Regions from separate parts of the Homo sapiens genome. Here region 2 is linked to region 1. Evidence: fine-mapped expression QTL. A gene starts in region 1. The other region holds a variant in brackets. All regions are shown on one strand. Distances are from middle to middle. Region 1 holds the start of INSIG1-DT (INSIG1 divergent transcript). Region 2 has its middle 28 kb from the start of BLACE.

What was found. PIP is the estimated chance that this variant, and not a neighbour inherited with it, causes the effect.
Region 2: its variant is fine-mapped to the expression of INSIG1-DT in whole blood (TOPMed, PIP 0.99).

The regions. Positions count from the first base shown.
Region 1 is chr7:155,296,415-155,301,671 of GRCh38, forward strand. INSIG1-DT (INSIG1 divergent transcript) reads right to left here and starts at 2,566. Exons shown (of 2, transcript NR_183448.1): 1 at 1,737-2,566. INSIG1 (insulin induced gene 1) reads left to right here and starts at 1,464. Exons shown (of 6, transcript NM_005542.6): 1 at 1,464-1,545; 2 at 1,845-2,283; 3 at 5,152-5,257. The coding sequence starts at 1,872. RefSeq lists enhancers at 460-509, 2,920-2,989 and a silencer at 970-1,799.
Region 2 is chr7:155,337,615-155,343,093 of GRCh38, forward strand. No RefSeq gene overlaps it. Among named protein-coding and RNA genes, the nearest start is that of BLACE, 28 kb to the right of the region's middle. The variant T/C (reference allele first, on the strand shown) is at 3,222.

The sequences.
Region 1 (5,257 bases):
CTTGATTTAGATCAGCGTGCGGGACGGGGAGCTCACAGTGGGGTCGAGGAGACACAGCACAGGCTTCTGAAAGGTGCCCTGTCCATTAGGGAGCACCCCATTTACAGATGGGTCATCCTTCAGCTCACTAGTTTCCCAGCGCATGACAGTGGGTAGCTTTTTTTTTTCCTATTATAAACAAATCTTCGATGTGACTGCGATGATCTACGGATGATCTACGTATCTGGTTGTGTGATCCTCAAGCACTTATGCAAGGTGGAGTGTAAACAATGGCCAAGACCCAAACTGCAATGTTCCCTGAAGTCCAACCTGCTTGGAGTCCTTGGGAACGTGTACAATGGTTAACAGGCTTGAGAGGAGTCAGCTGGGAGAGTGAGAGCGAGACTGCCCTGCAGAGGGGCCGCTGAGGATGGACCCCTGTAGGCCGTCCACACCCACCACGCGTGTCATCCTCAGGAAATGCAACCGGATGCTCGGAATTTCGCCCCTAAAGCGACTCAGGGCAGTCTCAGCTCAGGAAGACTTCTTTTTTTGACCTTCTGGCTTAAAGCCACAACCCCAGGCTGAGGATGCCACATCAACGGCGTTTCCTCGCCACGCTGCAGGCGTGACTCACGTTTCTAAGCCTGCAGGGTCCCCGGGCCAAGCGCGGCTACTGAGAGCACAGCGTCCTCCCTCAGCCCCTGCTCATCTGCACGGAGCAAAGCCGCAGCTTTCTCTGCTGTCAGCGCTTTATACGACTCGGATGTAGGCTCTGAGCGGGCACGGGCCCGCCCTCAGACGGCGACCCGAGGGGCAAACAGGATGGAGGCGCGCTCCCTTGGAGGCTGTGGTCTCGATTTTATCTGCTCCTGGGTGGTGCGGGTGGTTTGCTCTCTAGGCGTGAGCAAAGGCCACAAGGGGCCCGAAAAAATCACCCAAGGATGCAAGCCCGCCATTGCGCTGAGCAGGGGCCTCCCCGCCGCCAGAGCCCGCGCCCCTCCAGGGAGGCCCGCGCGATCGAGACCCGCCGCCTCCCGGCCAGGCGCGGGACACCAGGCGAGGGGAGCCAGGAGCCGGGAGGGGCGGCGCCGGGCCCGCAACCCCACCCTGTCCTGCCTCCGCCTCCTCCCGGCAGGACCGTCCCCTCCCAGGCCCCAGCTCCGCGGCCGCCCACTCGCAGCCGGCCAGTCCCGCTCGGGCCCGCGTGCCCCGCAGCCGCCACGCGCCCCGCAGTCCGTGCCGAGGCTCCCGCCCGAGTGCGCGCGGGCCGGCGGTGGCGTGTGCGCACGTCATATGGGCCGCCGGCCTCCCATTGGTTGCGGCCGCCTCACCAGACCGCGTGCGGACGGGCTCGCGGGCGGGGCGGGGCAAGCTCAGGCCACGCCCCTGGGCGGTGCGCGCGGGCGGTGGGTAGGCCGGGCAGGCTCACGTGATGCGGGCCCCGCGGCCCGCCATATAAACCCGCGCGCCCGCCAGGCGCTGCGGCCGTCCCGGGCCGTGACTCCTCCTTTCCCCCGCCCCGCCTCCGTTCGGAGAGCCGGCGGGCGGGCGCCTCTCGGCCAGGTACGCGGCCGGCTGGGATAGGGGTCGCGGGCGGGCTTTGGTCGCGCAGCAGCCGGTCCTCCCCGGAGGTAGGCGGGCGCGGGCCCTGTTGGGTCTTTGGGACGCGGGTCCCGCTGGGGCCGGGGATGCTGCTCGCTGTGAGCGCGGGTCCCGTCCGCCGCTGGCCCCGGGCGGGCGCACGGGGGTCTAACCTTGGGGGGCGGCGCTGCCGCCTGGCCCGGGTGCCGGGGTTCGCGTCCCGCGGGGCCTTCCTCGCTCTTTGTCTCTTCTGAGTGAACTTGATGACCCCCTTCTTCCAGGAAGCGCCTCTTGGACGCGTGTGACCGATGCCCAGATTGCACGACCACTTCTGGAGCTGCTCCTGTGCGCACAGCGCGAGGCGCCGAGGCCCCCCGCGAGCCAGCGCCGCGGGGCTGGCGGCCAAGGTTGGGGAGATGATCAACGTTTCCGTGTCCGGGCCCTCCCTGCTGGCGGCCCACGGTGCCCCGGACGCTGACCCCGCGCCCAGGGGCCGCAGTGCTGCGATGAGCGGCCCCGAGCCCGGCAGCCCCTACCCCAACACCTGGCATCATCGCCTGTTGCAGAGGAGCCTCGTGCTCTTCTCGGTTGGGGTGGTCCTAGCCCTGGTGCTCAACCTGCTGCAGATCCAGAGGAATGTCACTCTCTTCCCCGAGGAGGTGATCGCCACCATCTTTTCCTCCGCCTGGTGGGTCCCTCCCTGCTGCGGGACAGCAGCTGGTGAGTACCCCTCCTGGTTCTTCTGGAAGTAAAAAGGGTGTCTTTTCGGTTGAAAGTACTTTTCAGCCTATAAGAAACATGCATTTGAAACTGGAACTATCCACAGATTGAAAGTGTGCATCTCCAGTCTTGGGATTTAGAGAAATGAAGGAGGGGTAGAGAGGACCTGGCACCCCCGAGGGCGGGTTCGGGCCACAGCTCTCTGAAGTTTGAGGAAGCACAGTGATGGAGATGAGGCAGGGAGATAATTGGCTGTTCAAGCAGGTGCTGTGCCAAGCTGACTGAGGGCCCTTCCCTCCTGGCGTCCGGGTACAGCCCCAGCTGTCATCCCGCGCCAGCCGCCCCGGATTGGCCGCCTGGGGAACTGGTGAGCAGCGGGACTGAAAGGCCATTGGTCGCGGCAGCAAACATGCTACCCTGCTGGATAACTGAAAACAAACCCGTCACATGGGTTCAGGAGGCGGTTGCCAGGGGAGCAACTTCTCAGCACTTCCTTTTGCCGGGTCGCTGAGTAAACTGTGGTCTGAAGCCAAACCGCCTACACCCTGAACTGTTAGAGCTCTGTAGATTACGTTCTTAAGGAAAAGAGTAACCCCCTTACGGCGTTTAGATTTTCGTACACCCAAGCAGTAGCATAGATGCTGTACAACGTAACACTGAGTCAGTCTGAACTGTGGACACGGGGACTGCTGGGTGTGTGTACTAGACTTTCTTGGCTATCATTGAACCGCTTTTATAGAAATGTTGAGTTGATCTTGGCTCAGCAGATCACTTACTGCTCCTGTAGTCACACAGCATTTGTTTATTTAACGAGCTTGTCGGGTGCTTTCTGCAACCTCAACTCTATAAGCTGTTGAAATGTTAATCCAAAAGTGAGCACCACAAGCCCCTATCCTTAAGCAGCTTAGAGTCTGGTGGGGAAAACAAACCAGTATGTCAGTGACTCCAGTGCAGTGCAGGGAGCATCCTGTTTGCTTTGTGGCTGACGTTTGTCAGCTGACTGCTGACCATAGGCTTCAGATGCTTTGCTGTGTTCATTCCTTACAGCAATACCATGTGTAGCTTCATTTATAGATGTGGCAACTGAATCACAGGTGAAGTCACATCCAAGGGTGCGCAGGTAGAAAGGGGCCAAGCCATCGTTGGTAACTGCTCCTGCTGCCTTGGTAGGTGTGTCTCCTGCACTGTGGAAACACATTGCCTCAGTTGACTCACTGAAAACAGCAAGCAGCAGAGAGGTTTGTAGCAGATTAACAGAGGGCTCCGTGTTGAAGAACTAGGACAGGTGTCTGTAATTATTAAGTAGTGGGTAGAATGTTTTCATATTTGTTCTCGGAGGGACGGGATCCTCTTTCGTTTTTCGAAACACTTTATGTGGCTGTACTAATTGAACATTTTTTGAGAACTATATCTAGATTTAAAATTCCATGTTTCATATACATTTGGCAGAATAGTTTCTTTCCTTTAACCAAAAACTTGATCTTAGAAATGAAATAGTTTAGCCTTCAGTATTTGTAATTGGATCCTCAAGGGTTTCTAGGAATATCTGGACAATTTCTCATACTCTCATATTCTACTTTTTTTTAAACCATCAGCCAAGAGCATAAGTAAAATTTTTCATAGTATGTTTTTTACCTATTTATTTATTAAGCTATAGTGAAGTAAAGTTAATTTGGGGGGTCCATTTTTCAGAACTCCAAAATTAGAACCTGATGAAGTATAATAAATTGAAAACAACATTTTTTATCTGAATGTTTGATGCAAACTGTGTTTCTTGTTTCTCAGTTGAACCTAAAATGTATATTTCTTTCATACTACACTGAGGTGAAACAATTGCAGGGTTCTCAAGAGCCCTGGGACACAGTGACCCTTGTGTCCCAGCATCCAACCCCACGGGCCGGCACCCCACTCCCCCCTACAGACATTCATTCCTGCCTTCATCTTTGCCATTTTACTTCTCTTTTGGAATGCCATTCCTTCCCACCTGTCCAAATTCCAAGTTCGTGTCTATAAAGAATAACTATTCCAGACCACAGTGATCTCTTTCTCTGTGTCCCAGTTACATAATCCTTATAATTTTACACATGAGAAAACAAACATGCAGAGCCACGTCCCATCAGAGGGCAAGCTGGGATTTGAGGCTGAGTTTTCTCTTCTTGGTCTGGTGTTCTTTCCGCAGCTTGAGGCTTGACCATGCGGGAACCAGATGGAGAATAAGCGAAGCCTGTGTGGGGCTGTCTCGCCCCGTACTTGCCCATGTGCATGTGTGCACAGTAGGTGCTCAGTGCCTCGTACAGAACATGCTAGAACCCCCGAAAATCAACTCCAGGGCCACTCTAGGAGCATGTGACCCAGACTGTCAAAGTCACATCAGCAAATATGTATCTCATCACGTGCCCAGCCCCAGTACTGGGTGGTGGCAGGAGTGTCAGAGCTGTGATGTGACAGGGTGTGGACAGATGCTAACCTTTTTATTGTAAGATAGAAATCACACCGGATGAAAAGACAAGGTGAACTACATAGTCATTTAAGTTCTGTGTGCTTTAGGCAAATGTGGATATTAAATATAAGGTTACATATTGCTCATATTAATATGAATAATCCCTGCTTGATTCCTTCCTGTGTTTACTGAGACATGTTCAACTACACTAAATAATAGTGATTTTTAAAAAACTTTTCCAAACAGTACAATTTTGTGGGAGTGGTACTCAAAGAGAACAAGAATATAAAATCACTCTGAAGTTATAGCTGATAATTTTTTCTAGGAAAAGGACTGGTTTGAGTAATGTACTGTGTTACTAATGACCACGTTGAAATTCTGGAACTTGAATCTGCTGTATTCTAACATTGTCAACTTTTTTAAAACAGCTGTTGTTGGCCTACTGTACCCCTGTATCGACAGTCACCTCGGAGAACCCCACAAATTTAAGAGAGAATGGGCCAGTGTCATGCGCTGCATAGCAGTTTTTGTTGG
Region 2 (5,479 bases), 41 kb after region 1:
GGGGTAGAGCATAGAGGGCCCCCAGGAAGGACCCACCTAGAACTAGATTCTATCTCTCCTTATACACCCCAAAAGTCCTGGGCTGAAATTTCACACCGAATGCATCCCTTGCCCTCATTTTTCTTTTCTTTCTTTTTTATGCTGTTTCTTGTCTTCTCTTTCTTTCTTTTGGGGTGGAATTGTGTCCCCCTAAAAGGTTTTTTGAAAACCTAACTCCTGGCACCTGAGAAAGTGGCTTTGTGTGGAAAGAAGGTCCTTGCAGACACAGTTAGTTAAGATGAGGTCACATGGAGTAGAAGGGTGTTTGCACAGTATGCCAGCAATCTTAGAAGAGAGACACACGGAGAGGGGATGCCACACAGAGACAGACACACAGAGGGATGCCAGCCATGTGACGGTGGCTAAGGAGAGGGGAGTTACAGAGCTGCAAACCAAGGAACGCCAAGCAATGTGGCAAGGCCAGCAGCCGGGAGAGAGGCGCGTGCAGGGAGGCCAGCGGCCGGGACAGAGGCACATGTAGGAGGGCCGGTGGCCAGGACAGAGACTCATTTACGGAGGCCAGAGGCGGGCACAGAGGAGCATGCAGGGAGGCCAGCGGCTGGGACAGAGGCACATTTACGGAGGCCAGAGGCAGGCACAGAGGCACGTGCAGGGAGGCCAGCGGCCAAGACAGAGGCGCATGCAGGAAGGCCAGCGGCCGGGACAGAGGCACATTTACGGAGGCCAGAGGCAGGCGCAGAGGCACGTGCAGGGAGGCCAGCGGCCAAGACAGAGGCGCATGCAGGGAGGCCAGCGGCCGGGACAGAGGCACGTATACCGCGGTCAGTGGCCGGGACAGAGGCACATGCAGGGGGGCCAGTGGCCAGGACAGAGACTCATTTACGGAGGCCAGAGGCAGGCACAGAGGCGCGTGCAGGGAGGCCAGCGGCTGGGACAGAGGCACATTTACGGAGGCCAGAGGCAGGCACAGAGGCGTGTGCAGGGAGGCCAACAGCCACCACAGAGGCGCGTGCAGGAAGGCCAGCGGCCGGGACAGAGGCGCGTGTACGGAGGCCTGGAGCCAGGACAGAGGCGCGTGCAGGGAGGTCAGCAGCTGGGACAGAGGTGCATTTACGGAGGCCTGGAGCCGGGACAGAAGCGCGTGCAGGGCGGCCAGCGGCCGGGACAGAGGCGCGTGCAGGGGATCCGGCCAGGACAGAAGCACAGAGAAGATTGGCCCTCAGAGCCCCCCCAAGGGGGAACCACCTCTCACCAAGACCTTGGTGCTGGCCTCTTGGCCCCCTGAACAGTGAGAAGCCATGCCTCTGTGGTTGTCAGCCCCCGTCTGGCTGTGGTTTGCTGTGCCACCCCCGGACTGTCACCCCCCTTGCAGTTTTTCTTTCTGTGGCTTTCATTTACTCTCTTTCTTCTTCCTTTCTCATGGGCTTCCCCTGCAGGAAGTACACTTACTGCTATGTCACAAGGTGCAAGCGAATGCTATGGCTGTGCCCCCTGGCTCCCTTTGGGATTTTCCTGGGGCCCCAGGGACTAGAAATGAGACCAGGTGGTCTTTGCCCCCAAGCCTGGCTGCCACCAGACTCAGTCCCGGCTCAGTCTGGCTTCCATCTCTGGGGCGGCCTCGAGCACGGGCTCATCTTCCCCACACAGCAAACAGAGCCTCGGCAGGCTGTGCTTGGAGAAGCCACATCCTCTCAGACAGCAAGAAGGGTTTTATCCTGAGTACGTTTTTTAAAATTAAATTTCAGGAGTGGGGTTGGGAGCAGATTCTTTATTCTCCCACGAGTAGGTCTTTCCCACGGTGATGACCATAAGGACAACAAAAGAACGAGCGAGAGTCAGCATCACCTCCCGCCTCCCGAGCGAGGGTCAGCATCACCTCCCGCCTCCCAAGACACACGGGGAAGCCAGGCGCGTCTGTCACGGGTGAGGGCTGCTCTTGCCCAGGGCAGCCCAGGGAGGGGGTAGGCTGTTCAGCAGCCTCTGGGGCCTGGAGAAAGCGGGTCCCTTCTGGAGGTGTGACCCGGCCGGAGTCCTCCTGGGCTGACCCAGAGGGGCCCTCCTCAGCCCCTTCTTCCCACGGGAACTGCTGGATCCAGGCCTGCTGCGCGCCGCAGTGGGGCCAGCTGGCCTGTCCCATGTCAGGGGAGACACCCCGCCCAGCTGCCCAGGCACACACCAGCCCGCACCCACCCTCTAAGCCCACAGCTAAGCGCCCATCATGCACTCCAGCTTCAGACCCCGCTCTGGGGCTGCCACTGACTGCTATTTTAGCCGCTTGCTCCAGCTACCTTTTCATCAAAGGCCTTGAGACTCAGCCAATTCAGGAGACCACAATGGGCCCAAGAAGGCATCTGTGAATATGGCGTCTGCCTGTGGGGCCTCGTTCCCAGCAAAGGGACTGTCCATAGCCTTTCAAAGCGACAGGGCCCGATGGGAGAAGGGGGCAGAGAAGGAGAAGAGCAGCGGAGAAGGGAGCCAGCAGACATACTGGCCCGAGGCAGCGGGTTAAAGGCTGTGACGCCTGCTTTCCCAGGTCACAACGGAGAGGAGAGTCCGCTGGATGCTGCCCCAACCCTGGCCTGTGGCTGCAGCCCAGAGCCCTGTCCACTTCCAGGGGACCCTGTCATGCGTGGCAGCAGACACCCATCCCTGGACCGCAGGGTCTTCTTTCCTCTGAGCCTGTGGCCACACACCTGGCACAGGCCTGTGTCTGATCTGTTTGACTGGCTTGGCCCACTGTCCCGTGTGAGGCACACGGGACAGTGTGAGGCACAGAACCACAGGACCCCAGGGATGGAAGAGGTTGCGGAGGTCTGTGTCCAGCACCCCGCTGTGCAGAACGGCCTCCTTGCTTCCTGACGGGGACAGGGAACTCACTGCCTTTCTTGGTGCCCACTCTGCCTAGGATGCTCTGGGAGTGTCACTCTGTCACCAGCATTTGGTGTCACTTTCCTGCGGCTGTGGTGAAGCGTATCTAACAGAGAATTGACCAGCTTCGAATGCACCGTTCAAGGGCACAAAATCCATTCACAGAAATGTGCATTCTTCCCCACCATCTGCCTCCAGAACTTTCTTCCATCTCCTAAATGGAAACGACACCCACTAAGCAGTAACTCCCCACTCTGCCTCCCCAGCCCCAGCACCCACCATTCTACCTTCTGTTTCTGTGAATGTGACAACTCTAGGGACCTGCCATGAGTGGGATCATTCAATACTTGCCC[T/C]TCCGTGACTGGGTCATGTCCTCTGAGCTCACTCCTGCTGTAGCGTGGTTCAGGTCCCTCCCCGTGGCTGAGCACTCCTCTGCCGTATAGCGTGGGTCGGGTCCCGTGGCTGAGCACTCCTCTGCTGCACAGCGTGGGTTGGGTCCCGTGGCTGAGCACCCCTCTGCCATGCAGATGGACCACATGGGGTTCATCTCACCAGTATTTTAGGCTACCCTTGTCTGCTGGCTTCTTCCTCACAGCCTAAAAGTATGTTTAGGTCTCTTCCATGTATTAGCACACATAAAAATCCACAAAACAGCAAAATAGGGGCCTGAGACCCACCCACTTTGACATGGTGAAAACCAAGAGCCTGCGAACCACCTGCTTTGACACAGTGAAAACCAAGAGCCTGAGACCCACCTGCTTTGACACAGTGAAAACCAAGAGCCTGAGACCCACCTGCTGTGACACAGTGAAAACCAAGAGCCTGAGACCCACCTGCTGTGACACAGTGAAAACCAAGAGCCTGAGACCCACCTGCTGTGACACAGTGAAAACCAAGAGCCTGAGACCCACCTGCTGTGACACAGTGAAAACCAAGAGCCTGAGACCCACCTGCTGTGACACAGTGAAAACCAAGAGCCTGAGACCCACCTGCTGTGACACAGTGAAAACCAAGAGCCTGAGATCCACCTGCTGTGACACAGTGAAAACCAAGAGCCTGAGACCCACCTGCTGTGACACAGTGAAAACCAAGAGCCTGAGACCCACCTGCTGTGACACAGTGAAAACCAAGAGCCTGAGACCCACCTGCTGTGACGTGGTGAAAGAGCTTTCAAACACTCCCTAGCAACGCACCACATGCAGGGGGCTCAGACATCACAAACGTATCTCCTCTCAGTTCTGGAGGCTGGAAGTCCAAGATCAAGGTTGGGCAGGGCTGTTTTCTCCCGAGGCCTCTCTCTGTGGCTTGCAGTCAGATGCCATCTCCCTGGGTCCTCACATGGTCATGCCTCTGTGTGTCTGTGTCCTTATCTCCTCTTCTTCTAAGGACACCAGTCCTATGGGATTAGGGTCCACCCCAGTGAACCCATTTGACCTTAATTTCCTCTTGAATGGCTCTAGCTCCAAATACAGCCACATTCTGTGGCCTCCCCCCGGGGCTTGCAGACAGCTATTTTTACCTTCCCGCAGGGCTCTCCCTGTGGGTGTCTGTGTCCAATGTCCCCCATGTTTAAGGACACCAGTCATACTGGACTAGGGCTCACCCTAACAACTTCATCTTAACTTGATGACCTCTGTAAAGACCCTATCTCCCTATAAGGTCACCTTCTGAGGTCTTAGGGGTTAGGACTTCATCCTTTGGATTTATGGAGACACAATTCAGCCCCTAACATCTTGGAAATTCTAACCCACTTAACCCATTCTCTTCCCTGGAAGTTCAATATTGTTTTGATGTTTATGTGTAACATTGCTTTAAAAACTCTGTCTCTTGATCACAACAAGAAACACCAATGGTCTGCGTGGCTGTGGTTTCCCCGGCTCCCTTGTGTGGCTGTGGGTCCCCAGCTCCCTTGCTCCGAGATGTCTCTGTTTTGCTTTATGCAGTTTCCTTCAAGCCCAGCATTTCGTCCTAGGGGCCTCCCATGGACTGAATGTTGGCGAGGCCCCAAAATTCCCATGCTGGAGCCTCAAACCCCGGTATGGCTGTACGTGAAGTAAGGCAGCCATTAAGGTTACACGAGGCCATAAGGGTGGGCCCTGATCCCACGAGATTAGTGCTCTCATAACAAGGGACACCAGAGAGCTCGCTCATTCTCTCCTCCGATGCTGGCACCAAGAAAGGCCACTGAGGAGGGCAGGGCAAGAAGGTGGCCTTCTGTGAGCCTGGAAGAGGGGCCTCGCGAGAGCCCAGCCATGCTGGCACCCACCCCTCAGGCCTCCAACCTCCAGAGCCTGAGGAATAAGTGTCTGTGGTTCAAGCCACCCAGTCTGCGGTATTTTGTGAGGCAGCGGGAGAAAGCTATGGAGGGCTGTTATTTTGTTCGTATCATCTTTCGTGATGTGAAAGCTCTCTGTACTTTTAAAGTAGTAACCTTGACATTTTTCTAAACCATTCTTTACCATCTGCCTCTTTAATATTTGTTAGCAAGAGCTCCCCAACCCCCACTGCCCAATATAGTTCAAATATCTTCACTTTCCTCTACTTCTTTCTCACTCCCCACTTCCAAATTCCTGGTATGTTGATAGATTTTTGAATCATGCATCACCTCTTT